Linked DNA regions of Homo sapiens: region 1 is linked to region 2. Evidence: fine-mapped QTL for protein levels in blood plasma. A gene starts in region 2. The other region holds a variant in brackets. All regions are shown on one strand. Distances are between the middles of the regions.

What was found. A credible set is the group of variants that fine-mapping cannot tell apart. PIP is the chance, under the fine-mapping model, that this variant and not a neighbour inherited with it causes the effect. Protein levels are from antibody-based Olink assays in UK Biobank. Linkage for the fine-mapping came from a reference panel and not from the study's own genotypes, which makes the PIPs less certain.
Region 1: its variant is the best candidate, but not a certain one, in a credible set for the plasma level of the NUB1 protein (UK Biobank, PIP 0.60).

The regions. Positions count from the first base shown.
Region 1 is chr7:151,351,258-151,366,702 of GRCh38, reverse strand. It overlaps NUB1 (negative regulator of ubiquitin like proteins 1), which reads right to left. Exons shown (of 15, transcript NM_001243351.2): 4 at 15,221-15,279; 5 at 13,821-13,891; 6 at 10,753-10,935; 7 at 10,481-10,575; 8 at 6,456-6,562. Among named protein-coding and RNA genes, the nearest start is that of NUB1, 17 kb to the right of the region's middle. The variant GT/T (reference allele first, on the strand shown) is at 6,392.
Region 2 is chr7:151,337,062-151,349,394 of GRCh38, reverse strand. NUB1 (negative regulator of ubiquitin like proteins 1) reads right to left here and starts at 7,583. Exons shown (of 15, transcript NM_001243351.2): 1 at 7,549-7,583; 2 at 3,929-4,047; 3 at 155-322. The coding sequence starts at 4,045. RefSeq lists silencers at 7,314-7,493, 7,664-7,863 and enhancers at 7,461-7,962, 9,032-9,121, 9,252-9,311.

The sequences.
Region 1 (15,445 bases), 16 kb before region 2:
CACCACTTGCCCCAGGACACACATGCAGCCCCTTGATAGGAAGCAGAACCCAGGGCCACTGTTTCAGAGGCCCTCAGCAAATACGGGGAAGACCATGCTTTAAAGCTGTGACTTCCAATCCTGACTGCAAATCAGCATCACCTGGGCCAGAGCAACGTTCTTTCTTTCTTTCTTTCTTTCTTTAAGAATCATTGATCCCACCCAGACCAAACATAACAGAAATTTCTGGGGGTTGGGCCTGGTGGTTATACTGCCAGAGTCTCCCCAGCTGATTCTAGTGTACAGCCAGGGCTGAACACCACTTCTTTAAAGACACCAAAAAAATCCCTACGTACTATGAATGCCTCAGCTGATGACGGCTCTGACAAGGCATTCATGTTCAATCATATTCAAGCTGGGGGAAAAACAATCCAGAAAGCACCAGGCTCTAACGGCCCAGCTGATTTCTGAGGGCCTGTGTGCAGGCAAAATTTGACTCCGTATTCGTGGCAGCAGGCTGAACCCAGGCGCAGCAAAGGGAAGAAAGACAGCAACAGAAGTCAGTGTGCTCCAGGAGGAGCACTGACAAAGACAGCCATCAAGGTGACTAATTTTAAGTTATGATTACATTAAAAATTCCTAATGCCAATCTAGGTCTCAAGTCTTCAATAAGAACATTTGGAACCACACATTGTATATGAACAAGGTTTTCTCTCTTTATGTTCATTGGTGTTCTACTAAAAATAAGAATGCTCTTGTATAAAACTACAAAATCCACATGGCCTCAAGCTTCCTGTCCTGCCTATCAAAATATGCATGGAATAAAAAAAAAAGGACTTTAATTTTGTCATTTACTCTTTAAAACAGTAGTCTCCTAAAGAGGGCCCATGTACACAGTCCAGTTGTGGGTGCGGCAAGAAAAATGTATCACAGCAGTATTTTTATATTTATTTTCATCTCTCTCAACATTTCTAATTTCGTGAATGTTTGAGAACACATACACCATGTTTTACACACGTGTGCACGCAGACACACAGATGTGGAGCTGGGTGAGGGGTGCTTTCTCCAAATCTACGGCTCAGCCTGAGAACCTGCCTTTGAGAGAAACAGCAGCGCTTTGTGGATTGTGGTCTGATCTCACAGTCGTGTTGAGATTTCCTGCCTCTAGGCACATTCTGGTCCCAGTGACAGAAGACTCTCCTGCCACTCGCAGGAAAGCAATGGGCATGTGGCCGAACTTCTCCATCTCCTGCATGTTGCTTTAACAGGCTCGTTCATGTTTTACTAAGCATCAAGAGCGTGGGCAGAAATGGCCTCATGTCAGTTAAAAATAAAATCAATATGCACTTATCTCAAGTTTGACCCAGGAGTGAGTATTTATTTGTGCAGCCAAAAAAAAAAAAAAGAGAGAGAAGAAAACCAACAAAATGAACAAACACACAAAAAACCCAAAGCAGAGGTCTCATATTAGAGGGGTACATGTCATCCTTTTAGTTTTGAGAAATCAACACTTATTATTATATATAAAACTATATTTAAACCTGATCATTTGCTTGGGGCAAAGTGGTTTCTTAAAGCCTGGTATAAATTGCATTTAGAAGGCTGGGTGTGGTGGCTCACACCTGTAATCTCAGCACTTTGGGAGGCCGAGGCAGGAAAATCACTTGAACCCAAGAGTTTGAGACCAGCCTGAACAACATAGAGACTCTGTCTCTAAAGAAAAAAAAAAAATTATAAAAATAAAAAATTTCATTTAGAGTGTACTTTTATTAACATTGCTTTGGTTTACAATTTTAGTAGCATTAATATTCAACACTGTTACATTTTCATGCTGACGATATTAAAATAAACGTAAAATATTTATTTAAATAAAATCTACTGAGCCTAGCTTTCAAAAAATTAAATCCTGGCCAGGCACAGTGGCTCACGCTTGTAATCCCAGCACTTTGGGAGGCCGAGGCGGGCAGATCACCTGAGGTCAGAGGGTCAAGACCAGCCTGGCCAACATGGTGAAACCCCATTTCTACAAAAATTAGCGGGGCATGATGGCGGGTGCCTGTAATCCCAGCTACTCGGGAGGCTGAGGTGGGAGAATTGCTTGAACCCAGGAGGCGGAGGTTGCAGTGAGCCGAGATCGTGCCATTGCACTCCAGCGTGGGCGACAGAGCGAGACTCCGTCTCAAAAACAACAACAACAAAAATTAAATCCCATTTGAGCTTAAGTCGGTTATTTAACAGAAATTTATTATGTTTGTCTTACAGTTTTTTTGTTTTTTTTTTTGTTTTTTTTTGTTTTTGTTTTTGAGACGGAGTCTCGCTCTCTCCTCCAGGCTGGAGTGCAGTGGTGCAATCTCGGCTCACTGCAAGCTTCGCCTCCCGGGTTCCTGCCATTCTCCTGCCTCAGCCTCTCAAGTAGCTGGGACTACAGGCGCCTGCCACCATGCCCGGCTAATTTTTTGTATTTTTAGTAGAGACGGGGTTTCGCCCTGTTAGCCAGGATGGTCTGATCTCCTGACCTCGTGATCTGCCTGCCTCGGCCTCCCATAGTGTTGGGATTACAGGCGTGAGCCACCGCGCCCGGCCAGGCTTACCTTTCTTGAAATTAATATTTATTTAACATAAAAATTTTAGGCCAGGCGCGGTGGCTCACACCTGTAATCCCAGCACTTTGGGAGGCTGAGGCGGACGGATCACCTGACGTCAGGAGTTCAAGACCATCCTGGCCAACATAGTGAAACCCCGTCTCTACTAAAAATACAAAAACTAGTCGGGAGTGGTAGTGGGCACCTGTAATCCCAGCTACTTGAGAGGCTGAGGCAGGAGAATCGCTTGAACCCAGGAGGCAGAGGTTACAGTGGGCGGAGATTGCAGTAAACTAAGATTGCGTCACTGCACTACAGCCTGGGCGACAGAGTGAGACTCCGTCTGAAAAAATAAAATAAAAAAATAAGCCAAACTTACCTAACTTTTTTCAAGAAAGGTTAGCTAAAAAGTCATTTTCAATTTTATTACTGGTTTTAGGGAATTGGATTATAGTGTGCTGTAGTGTAGTTTTTTTCTGATATTTCTTGTACTTGGGGTCATTAAAGTCATTGCATCTGGGGGTTTATAGTTTTCATCAAACTGGGAAAAATTAATGGCCATTTTTTTCTTCAAGTATTGTTTCTGTCCCACATGTCTGCCTTTCCAGGGACTCCAATTACATGCATTTTAGGCCGCCTGAAATTGTGCCACAGCTTGCAGATGCTCTGTTCATTTTTTTTTTTTTTTAGCCTTTTCTCTGTTTTTTCAGATAGTTTCTATTGCCTTATGTAACATTTAACTAATCTTCTCTTCTATAGTGTCTATTCTGCAGTTCATCCCACCTAATGTACTTTTCATCTTGGATGTTGTACTTTTCATCTCTTACATTCTAATGTGGGTCTTTTGAATGTCTCCCATGTCTTTATCTGACATGTTCAGTTGTTCCTCTGCCTTCTTCAGCAGATGGATTACAGTCACTGTTTTAATGTCCTTGTCTACTAATTCTATCTTCTGTGTCACTTCTGGATCTGTTGCTACTGACTGATTTTTTTGCTTGTTATAGGTTACATTTGCTTGTTTCTTTGCATGCCTGCTAATTTTTCAGTGGATGCTGGATATTTTTGAATTGCTAAATTATTGAGTTTTGTTAGGGATGCACTTATTTGAAAACGGTAAGTTAAGGGTACTGTTCAGGAGTAGCTTTTAAGCTTTGTTAAGTGAAACCAAATTATGCCCTAGTGCTGAGGCAACACCCTTCTGAAGACTCTATTTGACGCCCTGTGACTACCAAATCCTCCACTCTGGCTGGTGGGAACATAAACTATTCCTGGCCTTCTATGAACTCGGAGGATTATTCCCTGCTTCTTTCATGTGGTACCTTGCCCAGCCCTGGGCGGTTTCCTCACACACATGTGCTGATCATTACTGAGCAGAAGACTCAAAAGGGCTCCTCTGAAGCTCTCTGACACCCTCTCTCTGGCAGCTTGCTCCTCTCACCTCCTTGGCCTCCTGCAAGCCCAGCTCCATCTCTTTAACTCCAGGGAGCACAAGGCTCTGCCTGGGTTTGCCCTCCCTGCCCCGTAACCTGAAACTTCTCCAGACACTGAGCTCCCCTCATGTTTCCCTACCTCAGGGTCACCGTTCTGCACTGCCAGGAAGTCACTGTTTCATACAATTTGGGGAAAGAAACTATTCTTGGTCATACTACATACCATACTCCAAGACATATGGTAGGAAGTTGTGACAAAACTTCTAGCTTACTTGGAGAAGTAAGGGGGAAAAGTCAAATGGAAAAGGAAATGGAAAAACTGAAGTTTCCTCCATCTGCATTCTATTTGGCTTACATTACTGCTGATTTCCTTTATGAAAAGAGAGAAATCACACACACACAAAAATATGCTAACAAGTTGGCCAGGATAAATAGATGCCCAGGATAAATAGATGCCCAGGAAAAAAAAAACTTTCTCTACTTAGAAAGACATTGTTAATTATTATTTCATTATTATACCTACCACTTACCGGACATGTTAATGTATCATGAACTGAAGATGTAGCCAAATTTGTATTCAATGGTTCCCTGAGACCTAAAAATTATTTCAAGGATTTGTCCAGGATAAAAAGATTGAGGGAGGCTCACACAGATGTATGAAGATCAACCATGTCTTTATAACTGCAGAAGCTTAGTTATGAGTGTATATGGAAGCTCATTATACTAATTTTTATTTTTATGACTATTTGAAATTTTCCATAATAAAAAATTAGAAACAACTATGGAAGGGAATGAAAAATTTACCTAAACTTTTAGGACCTAATTTAAAGCCTGTTTACCCTACACTGTTTGCAGAAGAGAATGAAACTGACATCCAGAAAGAGGCAGAGACAGAGACCCCAGAAGCACAAACCAGCCCTCATTCTCACTATTCCCAGCCCGGCCCCTCCCCTCCCAATTCCTTTTTTGTGTACGTTAAAGTTGGGACTTGTTCACTTAGAACCCAAAGGCACTGACCAATGGAAAACTATAAATATTTGCATTCATCTTCTGGGAGTATACAGTATTATCTTGGGAATGCACCAAAACAGAAAAGAAGTTAACACTAAATTTGTTAACTTTTGACCATTTTCAAAAAATCAAGTCTACTTTTCAAATGTTGAATATGTCTGCATCATAGTCTCTTAGTACCGTTTCCCATGAAGAGGAACCAGGACTCCTTGGGAAATTGCTGATTCCTGGTCTGGGCATTAAATGCCCAAGATGAGCCTGGAGTATCTTTGGATTCCAGAAATCAGAGACTGCAAAGACTAGCAGGGTCAGGTCAAAAAAACATGGGCTGCCTGCCAGCCAGCATGACCAATTTAAGCACTGAAGTTTGAAACACATCAAATGTTTTAAATCCATGAGTTAATAATGACACTTAAGAAAATGAAAAGAAAAAGAAACCTCTTTGGTCACCTTTGGAGGGTGATAGTGAAGCAACTCATTTATTCTGAAAACAAGAAAATAAGGAGAAAGAAACAAAGTATTTTATTCTAACTTTCCTATACAAATTGTACCTCCACATATAAAATAACTGATGAGCAAAAACAAATTTTTCAGAATTCCAGCAATAAATGCAGAAGGGAGGCTGGGTGCGGTGGCTCACACCTGTAATCCCAGCACTTTGGGAGGCCAAGGCAGGAGGATCACATGAGTCCAGGAGTTCAAGATCAGCCTGAGCAACACAGGGAGACCCCATCTGTATAATTAAAAAAAAAAAAAAAAAAAAAAAGCCGACACAGCGACTCACACCTGTAATACCAGCACTTTGAGAGGCTGTGGTGGGTGGATCACTTGAGCCCAGGAGTTTGAGACTAGTATGGGCAACATAGTGAAACCTCATCTCTACAACAAATACAAAAAAATTATCTGGGCATGGTGATGTGCACCTGTGGTGATGTGCACCTGTGATCCCAGCTACTTAGGAGGCTGAGGTGGGAGGATCACTTGAGCCCAGGAGATGGAAGTTGCAGTGAGCTGAGATCATGCCACTGCATTCCAGCCTGGGTGACAGAGTGAGACTCTGTCTCAAAAAAAATAAGTACAGAAGGAATAATATCACCATTATACAGCTCTTAAACAACGGATTTGAGGAATAATCATCAATACTACCCCAAAACCATTAGGTGAAAAGCTGACAGGAAACTTTATAATGGAAAGTTCCGACTAGCAACATAGCACATGTACAGAAGAAGAGAGGATATCCTACCTGCTTGAAAATTCTTTTCTTTACAGGGAGGAAAGGTCAATTAGAAATACAAAGGGAAGAAGAAATTCACCAGTTTACACCATAACTACTCTTTTACATTAACCACTGTTGTAGATGAAAGTCTGCAGTCTCAAGGGCATGGCAGG[GT/T]GTTCTGTATAGTCTGGGCCATCTTCCTTAAAGCTGGTGTTCACCAAGTACAAAAGCGCCTACCAGAAATATTTGTCAGCGTCCAACAGACATGGCAAGGCTATTCCATATTCTTTTCTTTTCAGGAAAGCTCTGCCCTTCTCATGATATCCCATAGCTAACATAAGGGCCTAGGAAAAAATACAAATTTAAAAAACATCACTTTAAAATATAATAAGGCAAATTATATTAAAAGCATATTACTTTTTAAAAAACAAAGTAAAAAAAATGAAAACAAGATCATAACTCAATCTAAAAGCCAAAATTAAGAAAAATATAATTAATTAAAGCTTTATTTCATTTAAATACTGAAGCCAAACACTTCATTTATTATAGCTGATACAATCCTAACCAGCACTTGGCCCTTTGCTTTCATTAGTTTATTTTCGTATCCACTGATCTGGATTCTACTTCTAATATTCTATTCAGACTAAACATATTAAAAAGCAGCCAGTAATGCTTGTATCATTTTTATTTTATTTATTTTATTTTTTTGAGACGGAGTCTCATTCTGTCGTCCAGGCTGGAGGGCAGTGGTGCGATCTCGGGTCACTGCAACCTCTGCCTCCTGGGTTCAAGCGATTCTCCTGCCTCAGCCTGCCGAGCAGCTAGGACTACAGGCATGAGCCACCATGCCCGGCTAATTTCGTATTTTTAGTAGAGATGGGGTTTCACCATGTTGGCCAGGCTGGTCTCAAACTCCCGACCTCAGGTGATGTGCCGCCTTGGCCTCCCAAAATGCTGGGATTACAGGCGTGAGCCACGGTGCCCGGCTGCTTGTATCTTTAAAAAGGGCATTCATTTCACTTTCTATTCTTTTTTTTTTTTTGAGACAGAGTCTCGCTCTGTCACCCAGGCTGGAGTGCAGTGGCGCGATCTCGACTCACTGCAAGCTCCACCTCCCAGGTTCACACCATTCTCCTGCCTCAGCCTCCCAAGTAGCTGGGACTACAGGTACCCACCACCACGCCTGGCTAATTTTTTTTTTTGTATTTTTAGTAGAGACAGGGTTTCACCGTGTTAGCCAGGATGGTCTCGATCTTCTGACCTCGTGATCTGCCCGCCTCGGCCTCCCAAAGTGCTGGGATTACAGGCATGAGCCACCGTGCCCGGCCTCACTTTCTATTCTTAATCATCTAGTTTTTTCAGAAGTTGTTTGTCAACTTTAGTATTTCCAAAACAAATTTTTTTATTTTATTTTTTTTTTGAGACAGAGTCTCGCTCTGTCTTCCAGGCTGGAGTGCAGTGGCGCGATCTCGGCTCACTGCAACCTCTGCCTCCCGAGTTCACGCCATTCTTCCACCTCAGCCTCCCGAGTACCTGGGACTACAGGCGCCCACCACCACGCCTGGCTAATTTTTTTGTATTTTTAGTAGAGATGGGGTTTCATTGTGTTAGCCAGGATGGTCTCGATCTCCTGATCTTGTGATCCACCCACCTCGGCCTCCCAAAGTGCTGGGATTACAGGCGTGAGCCACCGCGCCCGGCCCCAAAACAATTTTTAAAAGGTGATCCAAAATTTTTTGAAGTTCATTAGATTTTTCAATTTAAATGTTCGCATAATTCAGTCTGATAAAGCAGTAGTCCCAACCTTTTGGCACTAGGGACTGCTTTCATGGAAGACAATTTTTCCATGGACAAGGAGGAAGGCAGATGGTTTCAGGGTGAAAACATTCTACCTCAGGTCATCAGGCATTAGATTCTCATCAGGAGTGCACAGCCTAGATCCCTCACATGCCCAGTTCACAATAGGGTTCATGCTCCTAAGACTCTAATGCCGCCGCTGATCTGACAGGAGGTGGAGCTCAGGCGGTGACGCTCACTTGCCTGCTGCTCACCTGCTATGTGGCCCAGTTCCTAACAAGCCACGGACTGGTACCCATCTGCAGCCTGTGGGGTGGGAACCCCTGTGATAAAGGTTTTCCAAAAAGATCTGGATGTCGTCATTCAATGTAAGAGAGCAGTGGGCAAGTAATCATCATTTTCAAAAGACAAACATTGGCCGGGCACAGTGGCTCACACCTGTAATCCCAGCACTTTGGGAGGCCGAGGCAGGCGGATCACGAGGTCAAGAGATTGAGACCATCTGGCCAACATGGTGAAACCCCGTCTCTACTAAAAATACAAAAATTAGCTGGGCATGGTGGCGTGCACTGTAGTCCCAGCTACTCAGGAGGCTGAGGCAGGAGAATCGCTGGAACCCGGGAGGCGGAGGTTGCAGTGAGCCAAGATTGTGCCACTGCACTCTAGCCTGATGACAGAGCGAGACTCCGCCTCACACACACACAAAAAAAGACAAACATCAATCTACTGATAACTCAAACACTGATCCACAGTTCTGTTATGAAAACAACTTTAATCCGGCCGGGCGCAGTGGCTCATGCCTGTAATCCCAGCACTTTGGGAGGCCGAGGTGGGTGGATCACCTGAGGTCAGGAGTTCAAGAACAGTCTGGCCAACATGGCGAAACCCCGTCTCTACTAAAAATACAAAAATTAGCCAGGCATGGTGGGGCACACCTGTACTCCCAGCTACTTGGGAGGCTGAGGCAGGAGAATTGCTTGAACCAGGGAGGCGAAGGCTGCAGTGAGCTGAGATCGCACCACTGCACTCCAGCCTGGGCAACAGAGTAAGACTCCTTTTCAAGAAAAAAAAAAAAAAAACTTTAATCTTTAATTTTAAACAGAGTAACTCATAGAATGAAGCCTACTCAAAACCATCCCTTAAAAACAGAAAAATTAAAATTAATTTGACCCATAGTCATTCATTATAAGAAGCTACTGAACCCTTTCTCAGAGATTGATCTTAGAGTCCAAGTTCCAGAATGCTGCTATAGAGGCCCCCAAGGGGCTGGGTGCAGTGGCTCACACCTGTAATCCCAGAACTTCGGGAGGCCGAGGCGGGCGGATCATCTGAGGTCAGGAGTTCAAGACCAGCCTGGTCAACATAGCAAAACCCTGTCTCCACTAAAAATACAAAAGTTAGCCAGGCATGGTGGTGCGTGCCTATAATCCCAGCTACCCAGGAGGCTGAAGCAGGAGAATGGCAACAGAGCGAGACTCCATCTCAAAAAAAAAAAAAAAAAAAATTAGCTGGACATGGTGGTGTGTACCTGCAGTCCCAGCTACCCAGAAGGCGGAGGCGGGAGGATCGCTCAAGCCCAGGAGGTTAAGGCTGCAGTGAGCTATGATGGTGCCACTGTACTCCAGCCTGGGTGACAGGGCAAGACCCTGTGTCTTAAAAAAACAAAAACACGGCAGAGTTCGGTGGCTCACGCCTGTAATCCCAGCAGTTTGGGAGGCCAAGGTGGGCAAATCACCTGAGGTCGGGAGTTCAAGACTAGCCTGACCAACATGGAGAAACCCTGTCTCTACTAAAAATACAAAATTAGCCATCCGTGGTGGCACATGCCTGTAATCCCAGCTACTCAGGAGGCTGAGGCAGGAGAATCACTTGAACCCAGGAGGCGGAGGTTGCAGTGAGCTGAGACTGAGCCATTGCACTCCAGCCTGAGCAACAAGAGCAAAACTCCGTCTCAAAAACAAAAAAACAAACAAAAAACCCACAGATATGTTTAAGATTAAACCTCCGCCTACCTATCCCAAATTATAGAACAGGGAAAGAGTATGAGGAAATAGGGAAGAGAAGTCAGAATCACCTGTGGACTTTTCCCAAACGACACAGTTTCCCTACCCCTATTCTGATCCATCCCTTAGGGGACAAGGTTCTCTAGTAAAATAAACTAAATGTAAAGCACTGCCACAGGAAGCTGCATGCACTGAAGGCAGTGGGTCGTGTCCTCAGGTATGTTGAAAGTCACTGCTCCAGGACAGTGAGACATGACATTTTGTACTAATGCGCTGAAAAGCACAGGGTGAGGCCCATTGGATGCCAGTGCTCACCACGTGGTGACATTTTCTGTTTACGAGGCTGGAGATGGAGCACTGTTTCCAACCCTTTACAACACTTCCAACATAAAGCAACTAAAAAACCACCTCTGCCCTGACAACAAATCTAAGAACAGGCCACACATTTCTCATAGTACTTACTTTTCTTTCTGATGGGGGAATTCTGATTGATCTGCCTGTCTGGTTAGCTATGTCTAAGTACGGTGTCATTTCTGGATCCACCACTGTCTCTGCTGCTGTAACAAAACCAAAAGGACCTCCATGAACTCAATGTTAAACAGTTATGATGATGACAGCCTTAAAAATGTTAGACTGTTGAGGTGAGACTCAGTGAGAGCCATGATCCCCCAACTGTGTGATCCAGTGCTGCCCCCAAGCAGCTGAGTGGGTGACAAGCCCAGAGCTCTGGGTACCTCTCTTTGCCAGTATTTCTAGTCCTCTCTTGGTCCTCTGAATTTGTTTTTCTTTGAGTTTGGCCTCATTTTGCTCCTCTTCCTCTAACTGGAAGTTTTTCCTCGCGTCCTCTTCAGATTGTTTTAGTTCAAGCACCATCGCTTTCACATTGTGAGCCACGCCTTGTTCTTCAAGGGTTTTCCCTATAAAAATCAGAACTGCCTATTATTTTAAAAAGCCATTAAGCTTACCAGGTAACAGTCCATTTTCTATGTTAAATGGAATTGTTTTTATTTTTGAGACAAGGTCTCACTCTGTCACCCAGGCTGGAGTGCAGTGACACGATCATGGCTCCCCACAGCCTTCATCTCCTGGGCTCAAGCAAGTCTTGCACCTCAGCCTCCCGAGGAGCTGGGACTACAGGCCCATGCCATCACACCCAGTTAATTTTTGTATTTTTCGCAGTGATGGAGTCTCACTATGTTGCCCAGCTTGTCTTGAACTCCTGGGCTCAAGTGATCCTCCCACCTCAGCCTCACAAAGTGCTGGGTTACAGACATCAGGCCTTGCTCCTGGACAAAATGGAATTCTTAATCCTGCATACCATCACGCCACATAATTGGTAAAAATATGCCTACATTTGGTTGTAACTATGTCACTGTTAAGCAGTGGTTAAAATCAGCTAGCGACAATAGAATCAACTAAATTCATCTTTTCTAATCTTCTTTATTCTCAGCCTAAGACCAGATCAAAGCAACAGATATTTGATAATCTACTACAGGGAGAACATTGTGCTAGACAATATAAACGGAAAATGAGAAAGTATAACACACCTCTCCTACCCTCTAGTTGAAAAAATAATAAAGCCAATTCACAGCTACAAACAAGAAGCTGTACTGCAGTCTGTCACGGTTAAAAGCAAAGACCAGCAGGGCGTGGTGGTTCACACCTGTAATCTCAGTACTTTGGCAGGCTGAGGCAGGTGGATCACTTGAGCCCCGGAGTTCAAGATCAGCCTGGGCAACACAGTGGACCCCGTCTCCACAGAAAATAAAACATTAGCCTGGCATGGTGGTATGCACCTGTGGTCCTAGCTACTCAGTGGGAAGCTGAGGTGGGAGGATTGCTTGCACCTGGGAGGTGGAGGCTGCAGTGAGCTGCAATCGCACACCACACTCCAGCCTGGGTGACAGATAGAGACCCTATCTCTAAATAAATAAATAAAAGCAAAGACCATGGGCTCCATCTACCGTTTTAACTCTGTGGCCCTGAATAAACTACCTATCTTCTAGGACTCAGTTTCCTCATACATAAATTAGAAATAAAGGGCAGAAATCAGTGAAACAGAATGAAAGAAAACAGTAACAAAATCAAAAGCTGGCTCCATGAATAAATTAGCCAAATACACAAATCTAACAAAAATTATGTCAAAGATGCAAATAAACAAAATAAAAAAGGGTAAACATAGATGCAAACAGATTTTAAAATAACAAATAATATTGTGAACTAAAAAACACAAATGTGAACACATTTCTGGAAAACTAGCTGGATTTTTTTCTTTTGAGAAATATGACAACCTTTCTAACATTAACACACAAAATAAAGGTCCACCAGTGGTTAAGCCATCTTGATTAAAAAAAAAAAAAAAGCAAGGGTGGGGGGAGGTCACCAGATTTTAAGACTGCAACAAAGCCACAGTAATAAAAAACACCACAGGTGAGTAGGAAGAACAGAAAATATAGGAACAGGGCCCCCCAAAAAGGGTCACCACCAATCAGCAGGGAAAAGACAGACTATTTAATGAATTATATAGGAAGAAAAATAAAGGAACCCTTAAACTTTATATAGAAAGGGGGACTCTGGACAGACTGAAGACCTCTTATAGATTAAGCTAATATTCAAGAAAATGTAGACTATCCTTGTGGCCCTGGGGTTAGGGAAAGGACTTCAACAAAACACAAACCATAGGCAATGGATTTGATGACATCAAAATCAAGGTTTCTGTCCAATGAAGGATGCCACAAACAGAATTAACAGAGGGATGAGGCAACAGTGAAAAGATATCCATGACATCTAAAATAGACAATGGGAAATTGCTAGAGATGACGCTGGAAAGCAAGGCTAGGGTGAGCTGTGAAGGGCTGTCTTAGATCAAGCTAAGAAATGTGGACTTCATTCTCGAGGCCACAGGAACGCACTGGAAACCAGTGGGCTACAGTGCTTGTATGGATGGCTGCAGTAGCTAACTGGTCTCCCCAAGTCAACTCATGCCACCTTCAAATACATTCCCCTACTGCGTGACCTTTCTAAAACACAAACAGAATTGTGTATCACTCCGCAGCACAGATGTCTTCCCATGTATCTTAGGAGAAATGTACTAACACTGAGGAAGGTCATCTAGTTTCTCGTTTCCCAACAGCTGCGCTACTGACATCTGGGACTGGACAAGTCTTTGTTGTGGGGCCTGTTCTGGGCATTGCACATTCAGCAGCATCCCTAGCCTCCACCCACTAAATGACAGCAGCACAACCTCCCCCGTCACCAAGTTATAAGCACCACAAATGTCTCCAGACAATGCCAAATGTCTCCTGGGAATTCACAGTGTGGCCTCTGCTTGCCCCTCCATCCTTAAAAAGCACTCCCCTCCCCTCATTCTCCACACACAGCCACACTGGACCTTCCTCAGTTCCTCAAATTCACACCATAGTGCTCTGACATAAGGCTCTCAGTCTGGAACGCACGCCACCATGGCCTCCCCACTGTCCTGACACAGCCTTAGCTCTTCTCCTTCAAGAAGAATTTGCTGGAACTGGCATCTTACACTCAGCACACCTTACATTCCATTCTCTAACATTTTATCTAAGCTGTAATGAGTGTCTTTCTTCCCACTATCATAGAACAGACAGTAAATATTTATTGGAAAAGCTATTTTCTGCTTTACATTTTTATTTTAGTAAACTTCTAAATCACTTTTGGATTATAAATGAAATAAAGCTACAAATTTTTGAAAAGACATTGAGAAAAAAAGGGAAGTCATTATTTCTATATTTGGTTCATTAAAAAATTATGCATACTTTGCCATACATACCTAGTTGTAGTTGCTTCTTATTTATGACAATTTTGATATAATTTTCTTGAAGTCCAAAGGTTTCAGCTATTCTGTAAAATAAAACCAGTGAAAATTGTAGGAAAACAAAATTGCGATTTATTATCCATTAAAAAGACATTAGCCAGGCCCGGTGGCTCACGCCTGTAATCCCAACACCCTGGGAGGCCAAGGTGGGAGGATGGCTTGAGCCCAGGAATTCAAGACCAGCCTGGGCAACAGAGAGATCCTATCTCTACAAAAAATTTTTAAAAATTAGCCAGGCCTGGTAGCCCATGCCTGTGGCCCTAGCTGCTTGGGAGGTTTGGGTAGGAGGATTGCTTGAACCGCGAGTTTGAGGTTGCAATGAGCTATATTTATGCCACTGTGCTTCAGCTTGGGTGACAGAGCAAGATCCTGTCTCTAAAAAATAAATATTTTTTAAAAGAAGGCTTTAATCATGATAGCTCTTTTATCCATTTTATCAGAAACACCCAGGATTTCAACTGACTGACTCACAAACATCACAATAAAGCCATCTTACTAGACGGCTATTTGAAACTGTAGGAGACAAGGTCCTTTTTAAACTTTCCGTTTTACTGCTTGTTTCCTCAGGCAGTGGAGACCACAGTGCTGTAGATCCATGTGAACAGGAAGCCCTAGTTGCACATCCGGAGAAAATCTACCTATACCTTCTGTGGTCTCCCTGGAGAAGCCCATAGCGGGGGCTGATCCACAGGGTCTTCTACGCATGTGTGTTGCATGCCACTTCCTGAATCCACCCCTGACAGCCCTGATGTAGACCAAAGAAGGAAATGAGAAAAATCAGCTGAAGAAATACACCCGCTAGCTAGCCCTGGAGGTGCTCCAAACACCATTTTAAAACATACAAGGAGATGAAATAACCCACCAGATCTCAAAGTTAGGATTTCACTAGTATGTGGCAAACGTGTGTGTGTGTGTGTGTGTTTTACAGATGGGCCAACAGCCTGAAATCAGATAAAACACCGTGCTGAAGGTCATAGCAAGCTATTAATACATTAGGGAAAAAAAATAGTAATTCAAAACTAATGAGCTAGTGAGTACCAGGTGTCTCCTGCTTGTATCACTCACTCATTCACTCAAACATGCACCAAGTGCCTACCATATGATAGGCATGGAGTTCCCACCTGCTCGGAAGTTACACCAGGAAATAGTGCTTGCAAGTCTTGAGTCCTCACTTTGCCACTTACCTACCAGTGACAGCTCTAATAAGTCCTTCAACCTCAAAGCCTCAATTTTCTCTTTTATAAAATGAAGATAATACCTGCCCTACCTATCTTAAGAGGACGCTCACAGAGGATCAAATAAGCCAATGTAAAAAGGCCCAGAGCACCTAGGACACAGAGCACACAGATACTTACTTGGACCTCAGTTCTCTGCCAGTGATGTGCAATCGGGTCTCCAACAAGTTTTTCCTATCCTGTTAAAAATAAGACAAAGTAAAACGTACTTGAATTTAACCCATTTTGGAGAGATTACCCTGTGAAATCAGAAAAGCTGACGGCAGAGGATATAAACTGAGTTCACTGTTAAAAACTAAAATGCTGCCTGCCTAGAAGTCTACTGAACATAACCCAGCACAGGCT
Region 2 (12,333 bases):
TAACATTGACTTTCAAGCTGATAAATTGTTCAATATGTAAAGTCACTTAAAAGAATTCTGACTTTGGATTGTAACTTTCCAAACAACAACAATTTATTTGACCTCATCACTAACTGGACATTAGTGCCTACTCAAATTTAGGGAAATTACTCACTTTTTTTAGTCTTGGTGGTAAAAACACCTCGATTGTAGCAATTCCCGTTGTTCTATAATTGTCATTTCCTGTTCCACGCTCAATTGCCTTGCAACGTATTTCTTCTATTACCTTTTCTACTTCATTTTCACAGCATTCTAGTCTGTCAGAGTACTGCTTAGCAAGGTCCTATCAAGAAAAATCAGAAAATGCAATACTGACTTAAAAAAAAAAAGGCAAAATATAGAAAAGGGCATGAAAGACTCTAAGGCCATCAACTCTGATGAGTGGAGGTCGCCCCGTTACACTGCAGTCCACACTGTGGTTTGACATCTTGAGAGGTGTGGAGTTTAGAGAGGCCAGGAAAAAGTGAAAACACTTATTTGAGACTGGGCGCGGTGGCTCATGCCTGTAATCCCAGCACTTTGGGAGGCCGAGGCAGGCGCATCACTTGAGGTGATGAGTTTGGGACCAGCCTGGCCAACATGGTGAAACCCCATAACTACTTAAATACAAAAATTAGCTGGGCATGGTGGCGTGTGCCTGTAGGCCCAGCTACTTGGGGGGCTGAGGCAGGAGAATCGCTTGAACCCAGGAGGCAGAGGCTGCAGTGAGCCAAGATTGTGCCACTGTACTCCACCCTGGGTGACAGAGCAAGACTCCGCCTCAAAAAAAAAAAAAAAAAAAAAAAAGCAAAAAGCAAAAAACAAAAACATTTATTTGATAAATGTTTTCTACCTACAAATAGTAAAATAATAATAATAATAGAGAATCTTCTAAGGAGAAGAAAAGGGTGGGCTATGACTTATGTGACTGTGATCTATTTAAAAAGTATAATGAACTGTTCAACTCCACTGGAAGGGAAAATGAAAAAAAAACCCAGAAAATATTCCAATTTTTCAAACTTGTGAGAACAAATCAAGTTGGACTTAAACAATTCTCTTAATGAAAATCTGTGAATCATGGGTACTAGTTGTAAAACTATTTGTAAGGGAGAGCTTTAGAATTGAGAAAAAAAAGAAGATTGAAAGGGCTCAAGAAAGGATGGGAACCAGTTATTACTGAGAGCAAAGTCATTATGGTTCCTCCCCAAAAAAATCCAGATGAGTATCTCTAATCTAAAAATCTGAAATCGCCAAAATTCAGCATCTGGAGATGCTCAAAGGAAATGCACACTGAAGTATTTTGAATTTTGAATTTTCAGATTAGGATGCCCAACTAGTAGGTATAAAGCAAACATTCCAAAATCCAAACACACTTCCAGTCCCAAATATTTCAGTTACGGGATACTCCTCTCAATCTGTATCTGCATGTGAGGTTAATGTTTCATTAAACATCTCATAAAACAGTAAACACTTCAAAAAACCCTAAAGGTCAAGGTTTCATTAAATTCATAATGTAATACCATGTAGTACGTAAAAATTATGGTGTAAGCATAAATTTATGACAGAAGAGATGTTCATGATAAAAGTGAAGTTGGAAAACTTTATAGATATGAGTATAGATTGGGCGCGATGGCTCATGCCTGTAATCCCAGCACTTTGGAAGGCAAGGTGAGAGGATTGCTCAAGCCCAGGACTTCAAGACCAACCTGGGCAACAAAGTGAAACCCCGTCTCTACAAAAACTAAAAATATATTAGCCAGGCATGGTGGCATGCACCTGTAGTCCCAGCTACTCCCAAGGCTGAGGTGGGAGAATCACTTGAGCCCAGGAGTGTGAGGCTGCAATGAACTATGGCCATGCCATTGCACTCCAGCCTGGGCAACAGATCAAGACCTTGTCTCAAAAAAAAAGGAAAAAAAATTTTGTAAGTAACATAAACCTATATATACTTTTTTTTTCTTTTAGAGACGGGGTCTCACTACGTTGCCCAGGCTGGAGTGCAGTGGCTATTCACAGGTGGGACCATAGCATACTACAGTCTCCAACTCCCGGGTTCAAGTGATCCTCCTGCCTTAGCCTCCTGAGTAGCTGGGACTACAGGCATGCGCCACTGTGTCCAGCAATACATTTTTTTAATAGTTACGTAGGAAAAGAGGAAGAATATACCTATGTTAACGATGTTTAACATATTTTAAAAATACATTCTTTATATTTTTGTATTTATATACATACTTTTTAAAACCTAGAATATATATTATAAATACTTTTTTAAAAACTTTCTATAATTTTCTAGAAAACCTAACTAGTGAGGATTTCTTTCTTCCTCCTGTCACCAGCCAATTCTGACACCAACTGGAAGTCCTACGATTCAATTCTGACACTAACTACCCAGAGTTAGCGTTAGACTCCACAGGTTTAAGGGCTCAGCCCACAAAAAAGCCCTAACTTCAGATACCAGTTACCAAGTATCTGGTCCCCAGGTTACCCATACTTTTGTCTGACTTAGCTACAAAGTCGAGGGTTCACACAAGCACCCCCTTCAGGTTCCATGATTTGCTAGAACAACTCACAGAACTCCAGAAAATGGTATACTTATGAATATAGTTCATTACAAAGGATACAAATAACCATTCACATGAAGAGGTACTAAGGCAAGGTCTGGAAGGGTCCTGAGCATAGAAGCCTCTGTCCCATGGAGTTGGGGGTGTACATCCCGACATGTGGATGTGTTCACCAATTTGGAAGCTGTCCAAAATCTGTCACTTAGGGGTTTGTATGGAAGTTTCATTATGCAGGCCTGATTAAATCACTGACCATTAGTATTAGTCATCAGCTCAATCTCCCCTTCCCAGAGGTTGGAGGGGAGGGTGGAAAGTTTCAAGTGTCTAATCACGGCTTGGTACTTTTGGTGACCAGCCCCATCCTGAAGCTATCTAGGGGCAACCAAGCCTCATGAGCACAAAGGTTGCTCCTATCATGCTTACCACTTAGGAAATCCCAAGAGTTTTGGCTCTGCCAGGAACCAGGGACAAAGGTCAAATATTTTTCCTTTATGCCACACCTAGTTTCTAAACCAAGAGACTGTAACAATAAATTCAGAAGCAAGGTCAGAAGGTGGGTTGCAAAGAAAAAGTGAGGCCTGCCTGGAACAGAAGAAACAGAAGAACTAGGACCCTAATACAGTTTGTCACCTCCCAAGCACATCATTATGTCACAACACAGAGCAATTTAATGCCTCATGACAATCCTTAGTCCCTGATAAATGTTACATCATGTTCAGGATACTCTGAATGAGAGCAGAGAAGTACATGCTAGGAAATTCCAGTATGATAGATTTCTGGCAAAAATGAGTACTGTTTCTCTGCTTAGAAAAGCAAGCAGACTTCAGTTTCTAGAAACATCACTTACATACAATATCATTTCTGATGATGCCATGAAAAACTGAGATACAACTGTTAGAAAAAACCTATTTTGGAAAAATGAACACTGATAGTGAGAGCATCAAAAAAACTGGGGGAAAAAGGAGCAATTGTTTCACAGCAGATGATGATAGCAAGGAGGACCGAGAATGAGCCAAGACACTGTCACTTTGAACACACAATGCAATTACTTACTGGCACCAATACTGTTCCACTAATGGGTCAAAATGAGTTCCAGATAAATAATGTTATGTAATCCTGTGATGGTATTAAAAATATATGCCTGAAAAATTAGATAACATCCTCATGTGAATAAAATATTAATGAACAAAAATAAGGTTGTCAGTTCCTAGTAAAAAGTGGGTACCCGCTCACCACTAATGCTTTTGGTTATGCCAAAAGTTTATATGGTCATGCCTGACAATTCAGAATCTTATTTACCAAGGAGATTTATAATGCTGCTAATTATTGATGTCTTAAAAGAAAAATACCTTTAATGCCAAACCAACTTTTTTATTTTCATCTGTATATGGAGGTTTCCAAAGTTGAATCCTGTCTTCCCTTAAAAACTGGGTCAATTTTGCTTGAAGATATTTCTTTTGTGCCATCCCTGAAAGCAAAACAATACATTAATAAAACTCCACATCGCATTTTAAAATGTTAATAACTTACCTACATGTTAAGGTGCTTTGTTGGGTAAGCAAAGCTCCCTTCCTCTGTCATTAAATATAAATTACTATGGTTTAAATGAGCTCCAGACTTCTCTAAAAATATATATAGAAATATATGTTCAATTATATATATTACATATATAAAATATGTATTTCAAAGTTGCTAATATGTAGCAAGGATTATTACATGTTTCTATTTCTTAATCTGCTATTCTCTTATCTAAGAGAAAAGAGAAAATAAGAGAAAGATAAATCCCTCGAGTCGTGAACTTCTTTTTTTCTTTTTTGAGACGGAGTCTCGCTCTGTCGCCCAGGCTGGAGTGCAGTGGTGCGATCTCGGCTCACTGCAAGCTCCGCCCCCTGGGTTCAAGCAATTCCCCTGCATCAGCCTCCCTACTCACTGGGATTACAGGCATGCGCCACCACGCCCGGCTAATTTTCATATTTTTAGTAGAGACGGGGTTTCGCCATGTTGGCCAGGCTGGTCTCGAATTCCTGACCTCAAGTGATCCACCCACCTTGGTCTCAAAACGCTGGGATTACAGGCGTGAGCTTGTAAATTCTCTCATACTTTGGCTAGTTTAACATAAAACAAAAGGCCAACCATCCTGGTAGTTAAATATAAAGAAAAGCTTGCTTGAACTGTAAACTATCGATAATAAATATTTTCGGATGGGTGTGGTGGCTCAGGCCTGTAACCCCAGCACTTTGGGAGGCTGAGTTCAGGAGCTGAGGTCAGGAGTTCGAGACCAGCCTGGTCAACATGGTGAAGCCCTATCTCTACTAAAAAAAAAAAAATATATGAACAATTAGCCGGGCGTGGTGGCAGGTACCTGTAATCCCAGCTACTCGGGAGACTGAGGCAGGAGAATCGCTTGAATCCAGGAGGCAGAGGTTGTAGTGAGCCGAGATGGCACCACTGCACTCCAGCCTGGGCAACAGAGTGAGACTCCGTCTCAAAATAATAATAAATATATAAATATTTTCTATGTCAGAATTTTTTAAATTAAAAAGATTACAATACTAGGAAAATTTTGCATATTTTCTGATTAACAGCCTAACAGCACATCTACTTTTTTTTTTTTTTTTTTTTTTTTTTTTTTTTTGAGAGGGAGTCTCACTCTGTCGCCCAGGCTAGAGTGCAGTGGTACAATCTCGGCTCACTGCAAGCTCCGCCTCCCGGGTTCACGCCATTCTCCTGCCTCAGCCTCCCCAGTAGCTGGGACTACAGGCGCCCGCCACCACGCCCGGCTGATTTTTTGTATTTTTAGTAGAGATGGGGTTTCACCGTGTTGGCCAGGATGGTCTCAATCTCCTGACCTTGTGATCCGCCCGCCTCGGCCTCCCAAAGTGCTGGGATTACAGGCCTGAGCCACCGCGCCTGGCCCTACTATTCAAATCTAACACTGATCGGATCATTTTACAGCTGAGAAAATTAGGGCCCTGAGTTTGTACCATGACTCAGGCAAAGACACAAAATTAGGCAGCATCTTAACGAGCACAACTTCCACCCACAACACTGGACTCTGAACTTCCGTCATGGAGTCCCTTGCTGCTTGCCTGTTCCAGGTATGTAACTTCTCTCTCCCAGAGAAGTATGTACCGCGATGGAGCTGTCTACTCATCCCATACTAGCACAGCAATTCAAAGGTGAGTGAGGCGGCTGAGATGTAAGGCAGCTGGCAGGTGTAGCACAGCGCTTTAAGGTTTCCCAAATCAGACAAGCAATAAGTAAAGAAAAATGTTATTAGCCCCTGAATGATGAAGACAAGTTCTAGAGAGTGGAAAAAATATGAGTTAATATTACCAAGATAAATTTCTTTCTTCTATTGAGGGCCAGTATTCCACATCCCCCCAAACCCAATTCACACAACTTTGAAATCTTTGAAAACTTTGGTAGCTTGTGTATTTCATAAACAAATATTTTTTAAAAGAAAGTTCAAATCTATTTTATGTCAGTGCGGGGACAAGAATTAGGCTAATCAGGACAGGGAGGAGAAAAGAGAGGAAGGAATAACACAGCCAATGAGGCTGCTGTGTGCAACCTGGGTGGCCCATGGGAGAATCCTCCATTTTTCAAGCACTGACAAACGGCTTATCACAGCAAAGCATATTAGTACTTAGAGCGTTAGCTTTTCAAACACAAATAACTTTAAAAACTACTTTACATACTACTCATGAATCTTCAGAAATTCTGAATAAAATATCACAGCAACCCTACTGTCTCCCCACTGGGGGACAGTAATTTCACAGGCTGGTTACTGGAGCCAAGCAATTTGAAAGGCTGATGCGGTACTCAGAGATGCCATCCAAGGCCGGGCGCGGTGGCTCACACCTGTAATCCCAGCACTTGGGAGGCCGAGGCCAGTGGATCACCTGAGGTCAGGAGTTCAAGACCAGCCTGGTCAACATGGTGAAACCCCGTCTCTACTAAAAAAATAAACAAATAAAAAATTTTTAAAAAGATGCCATCCAAGCCACCACTTGACAGAAGGACGAAGGAGTGTTACAAACCCAGTGCGTGTCAGACACTCCAGGGAGCAAACAAGAGCTCCAGGGTTACACCGAATAAGATTTAATGTTAAAAAAAAATTAAACCACTGTCTTGAAACTTAAGGAACTTCAGTTATAGACAACAGAGTAAGTGGCGACATATTTTAAGTCAAGTTTAATAAGTCAGTTTTTAATTTTAACTGAAATGAGAACTGAAAAAGTTTCATGCATGCCATACAATGTTTCACATTGTAACTAAGAAAAGACGAAACTCATTAATATCACTCCGTGGTCCAAGCAGAAAGTGAAACGTTATAACGATCCTTTAAAAATTTCACTTTCACTTTTGTAATGAATCGATCATTGCTACATTTAGCCACACCTTTTCAAGTATACATTATATATAGTTGAAACACAACTATATCTAGTCAAGACACATTCATTTTTTCTTAGGAAAATGAAAGATTCTTGATTAAAAATAAAAGGGAAGGAGGTGAGAATGATAGAATCAGGTCGTCAAGGTTCGAGAAAATCAAGTGTCTTGTCATTAAATAGCAAAGAAAATCTGGCTTTGATTGCAAATAAATCCCAAATGGTATACTCGGAGTGTTACGATTCAAGTATAGCATTTGGCTAATTTTTTATAGACATATTTATTCCTTTCTCTCCCCAAACCGATACACTCAATATTTTCTTTTAAATACCCCACACCTCTGCCTAACTCAGGGCAAACCAAAGGGCCCCGAACGGCCAGCGCGTCCCGAAGCCCGGCCCACCGCTCCCGGCCCCGGCCCCGGCCCCGGCCCAGCTCCACGCATGGCTGCTCACCCCCGCCCCGCGGCCGCTCCACCCCTGGCCAGGAGAGGTGCCCAGTCGGACCGGGAACCGGGGCGCCAAGCAGTGCTGCTGAGGCTGGGGTCGAGGACACTCGGCCGCCGTGTCCTCACCTGCGCCACGCCACTCCCGCCGCGACCAGCAGAGTGCCCGGATGCGGCAGCGGCCGCCGTTTGTTTTCATTCCGGGTGAGGCCAGCCCCGCCCCCGCCGCCGCTGTCGCCTTCGCGCCGCCGCCGCCGCCGCCGCTTGGAAAGAGGGTTGTGGGCGGGGCCAAGGCGAAGCCAGCTGTGGGCGGGGATACGGTTGTGTGGGCGTGGTTACCGCGGGGCGGAGCCGCGACGGGGCGGAGCTAAGCGGAGGCGGGGCTGGGCGAGGATGTGGCCGTGTGGGGCGAGGACCTGGGAGTTGGTGTCCAACGCCACCCCAGGCTCAGTCTTCCAGGACTTCCCGCCCGGGCTCAGTTTGCCAGCCATCAAGAGGAAATGGATCCTGGCTTTGTTTCTCCAGAATCCTTGAAAGAGGCTGGGGGAAGGGTCGGGACCGTCCCAACCCGCATCTCATTCCTCAGCCTAGGCTGGACCCCTTCCCTAAACCAGCGGCTTTTCACCCCGCCCTCCACAAGCCCACCAGGGGCTTCCCTGGGGTGAAATTAGGCTGCTTCCCGGGAATTTCCTCCCCCATGCTGTCCACGGCCACTAGGGACCACAAGGCCTAGGGAGCTCTGCCTACTTCCAAGGTCCTATTCCCAAGGCTGTGCTCAACAGTGACGCTTCTATTTTATTATCAGTTATTGCTGTTAATCTCTTACTGTGCCTAATAAATTAAACTTTATCGTAGGTATGTACGTATGTATAGGAAAAATGAAGTGTGTGTATATATATAGTATATATATATGTGTGTGTATGTAAAATGGGGTGCAGTACTATCCGAGGTTTCAGGCATCCACTGTGGGTCTTGGGACACACCACCTGTGTGTGGACGAGAGGGGACTCCTGTAACCTTGCAGTGACCAATCCGTTTTTCGTTCCCTGTTGCTGCTTTCTTTAGCCCTTTTCTACCTATAAAGCCCACCTCCTCTGCCCAGCTCGTTGGAGCACCGTTTCTAAATTTTCAGAGAAGATGCCATCCTGATTCATGAATCAATAAAAACCAATAGATCTTTAATCTAAATTTGTGGTAATTTTGACTTCTGACAAAGGGATATTAATAACTGTATAACCGCACCAGACCAATCTGATTCGCCTTTTATATACCCAAGTTGTGAGTTGTTTTTCAGTTGCATGGACTCCCAGATGGAAGGTTTCGCACGTAACCTGAGGATGCCCAGGTGAACCAAGCATGCAACCAGGGGCGGAACCTGAGTGCTCAGATCAAAGCAGGGACTGAATTAAGAAATGGGCACTGCATGGTGAGATCCAGAATGCAATCAGATCAAGCCCTGGTGTCACCCCATGGCAGGGTCCAGTCAGATGAGCATCCCAGCATCACCTCATCGCAAAATCTAATCCGATCATGCGTCATTACCCTATGCTTATAAAACCCAACCCAGCCCCAAGCTCAAGGAGACAGAGCTGAGGGTTTCCTCATGTCTCCTTGACAGTCAACTCACAATAAAGCCTTTCTTTTCTCAAAAGCCCGTGCCATGGTGTTGGCTTCTAGCACATCAGGAAAAAGCCCGTTGATTGCTCAGTAGCAATTGCAGCAAGGTAGAAGGACAACAGAAACTGTTCTGACATTTTTTTCTGAGGGCTTTCTCTGAGATGAGTAACAAAGATAGTTTCACTTTTACATTTACGTAGTAGACCATCAGGAAATTGAATGTCCACGCTCAGGTGTGATGGAGCAGCTTGCAGTAGACCAAGGCTCCCACTAACAACAACTAGAAAAGCCAGAAAGCGAAGTCAGAAAACATCTGTTTGAAGGCAGTGAAAGCTGCTGAGGCAAGAATGGGGGGACTTGATATTCCAGAGAATGAGGAACCTTCAAGGGGTGAGCTAATGTCTGCAGTGGCTTGTATTGGTGTGTGAGGGCTTTTGCCAGTTCTGGATACAAGCATGAGGCTGAGAATTTAGACTTTGAGACCACAGAGGGCCACTGCTGGGGACACAAAACCAACACAGCGATGTAGGGGGAAATTCCAAGGACAATTGCTGAATTCAAGGCTTGTATGGGGCAAGAAACTGAAATGTAAATGGAAGGCCTCTGAAAGCAGAAGTTTTTGATAGACTTGCAAAACAAAGATTCGAGTCTGAGATCTGCTAGGGTGGTGGTGGAAGTGGGTTACTGCAGAGCCTACACCATGTTCCCAGTTGGAAACTGGAGGGCAACGGTAGCTTGAACCCTACCAGAACCTCAGCCCAGCCTTCACTCCATGCAGTCCCTGATTGGATTAAGGTTATTGGCCACTCCTGTCTTTGGTTTTGTGGAGGAAAGGGAAAAACCCTCCTGAGAGAATGATAACATTTGAAGCCTCTACAACTTTTTAGAAGCTATATTTGGCATCTCATTAAAAAGTTACTAGATAAAAAAAGAAAAAGACAATAGAAACAGACCCACAGATGAGTCAGATATTGGAGTTGCCTGATTAAAATAACTCTGATGAACATTTTCAAGAAAACAGAAAAAAAGATGAAAATTTTCACCTGAGTATTGAAATCTATAAAAATAAATCAAATGAAAACTCTAGAGGTGAAAAGTGTAATAAATGAGGCTGTGAACTCTGGATGTTAGACAAAACTAAAGACACGATTAGTGAACTGCAGGCACATCAATAGAAAATATCCAAACTGAAGCATAGAAGGAAAGAATGGAAAATACAGAAACAAGCATTAGAGACACATGGGACATGATGAAAAGTTCTACCAGGTATTCAGGTTTCTAGAAAAAGAGAGAAAGGGGCAGAAACAATATTTGAAAAGATAATAACCAAGAGTCCAAGTTTCGCAAAACTGATGAAAGACATCAAATTACAAATTCTGTAAGTTCTATGACTCCTAAGCAGGATAAATACAAAATCAGCCACACCCAGTGCATTCTAGTAGAACCATTGAAAACCAAGGAAAAAGATAAAATCTTAAAAGGTGCCAGGGCCAGGTACGGTGGCTCACGCTAGTAATCCCAGCACTTTGGGAGGCTGAGGCAGGTGGATCACCTGAGGTCAGGAGTTCGAGATGAGTTTGACGAATACGATGAAACCCCGTCTCTACTAAAAATACAAAACTTAGCTGGCTGTGGTGGAGGGCGCCTGTCATCCCAGCTACTTGGAAGGCCGAGGCAGGAGAATCGCTGGAACCTGGGAGATGCAGGTTGCAGTGAGCAAAGATTGCACCATTGCACTCCAGCCTGGGCAACAGATTGAGACTCCATCTCAAAAAAAAAAAAATTAATTTAATTTAATTAAACAAAAAAAAGGTGCCGGGGAAAAGATGCATTGCCTTTTAAGATTGTCAGCTGACTTCAGAAACAATAAATCCAGAAGACAATGGAATGGCATCTTTAATGTGCTAAAAGAAAATACACATGTTTAGTTCAACGTTCCTTAATATTTTAGGCAATAAGATTTATTGAGAACACAGAAATGGTGCAGACTTGTGCTTTTATCTTTGTCATGCATATGTGATGTCTTCTGGAATTAAGTTTAAAAAAGCAAAAGAAGTAAGTTATTCTGGCCTCCCATGGAGGTTTCTCAGATGGTAAGCCTACAGTGATGAGTAGCCACCTTCTTACTTCCAAGGTCACCTTAGTTTTTATTCACCCTTAAACTTAAAGTCACATGACTAATATTGTATATCGAATTCTTTTTAACATTAAAAGGGGTTAAAAAACAAACACGGATAAAACACAAACAGATGATCCTGAACTTAATTCAGTAGTACTAATACCACGGATTTATTTATTTATCATCTCTCTCCTTATTTTTTTATCTTGTTAGAGTAAGTGTATCACCTACCCAACTTTTTTTTTTTTTTTTGAGGCGGAGTCTTGCTCTGTCACCCAGGCTGGAGTGCAGTGGCACAATCTCAGCTCACTGCAAGCTCCGCCTTCCGGGTTCACGCCAATCTCCTGCCTCAGCCTCCCAAGTTGCTGGTACTACAGGCACCCACCACCATGCCCGGCTAATTTTTTGTATTTTTAGTAGAGGCGGGGTTTCACCATGTTAGCCAGGATGGTCTCGATCTCCTGACCTCGTCATCTGCCCGCCTTGGCCTCCCAAAGTGCTGGGATTACAGGTGTGAGCCACCGCGCCCAGCTGCACCTACCCAACTATTGAGACAAATGAACCTGGGTTAAAAAATTTGGACCAGAATATGTCAGAGATTCAAAACCAGAACACAAAATTTGAGGACTGATTACATGCTTCCAGAATGATTCTACCTGAATCACAGGTGAGAAGGCCAAGCCCTTTCTCACAGTGACTATGGCAACAGGAATTCATGACCTCCACTGAAATAAGGCATCCTAGCCCATGTTTCCTAGGAATCAGAGTAATCCTCCTATGCAATGACCTTGTAACTTCTTTTAGCTTCTATCATCTGTTTGGGTGATTGAAATTCTGGATTCCCAATCAGATGTGAACAACTTTTCCTCACCACTAACTTGATTTCTCTTTCTTCCATGTTCTTCATATCCAACTAAGATGCTGAATAAAATTACTATGTCTCCAAACAGCATGTTAAAAAATTATTTATGGGCTAGGAGCGGTGGCTCACGCCTGTAATCCCAGCACTTTGGGAGGCCAAGGTGGGCAGATCACGAGGTCAAGAGATTGAGACCATCCTGGCTAACATGGTGAAACCCTGTCTCTATTAAAATACAAAAATTAGCTGGGCGTGGTGGCGCATGCCTGTAGTCCCAGCTACTTGGGAGGCTGAGGCAGGAGAATCACTTGAACCCGGA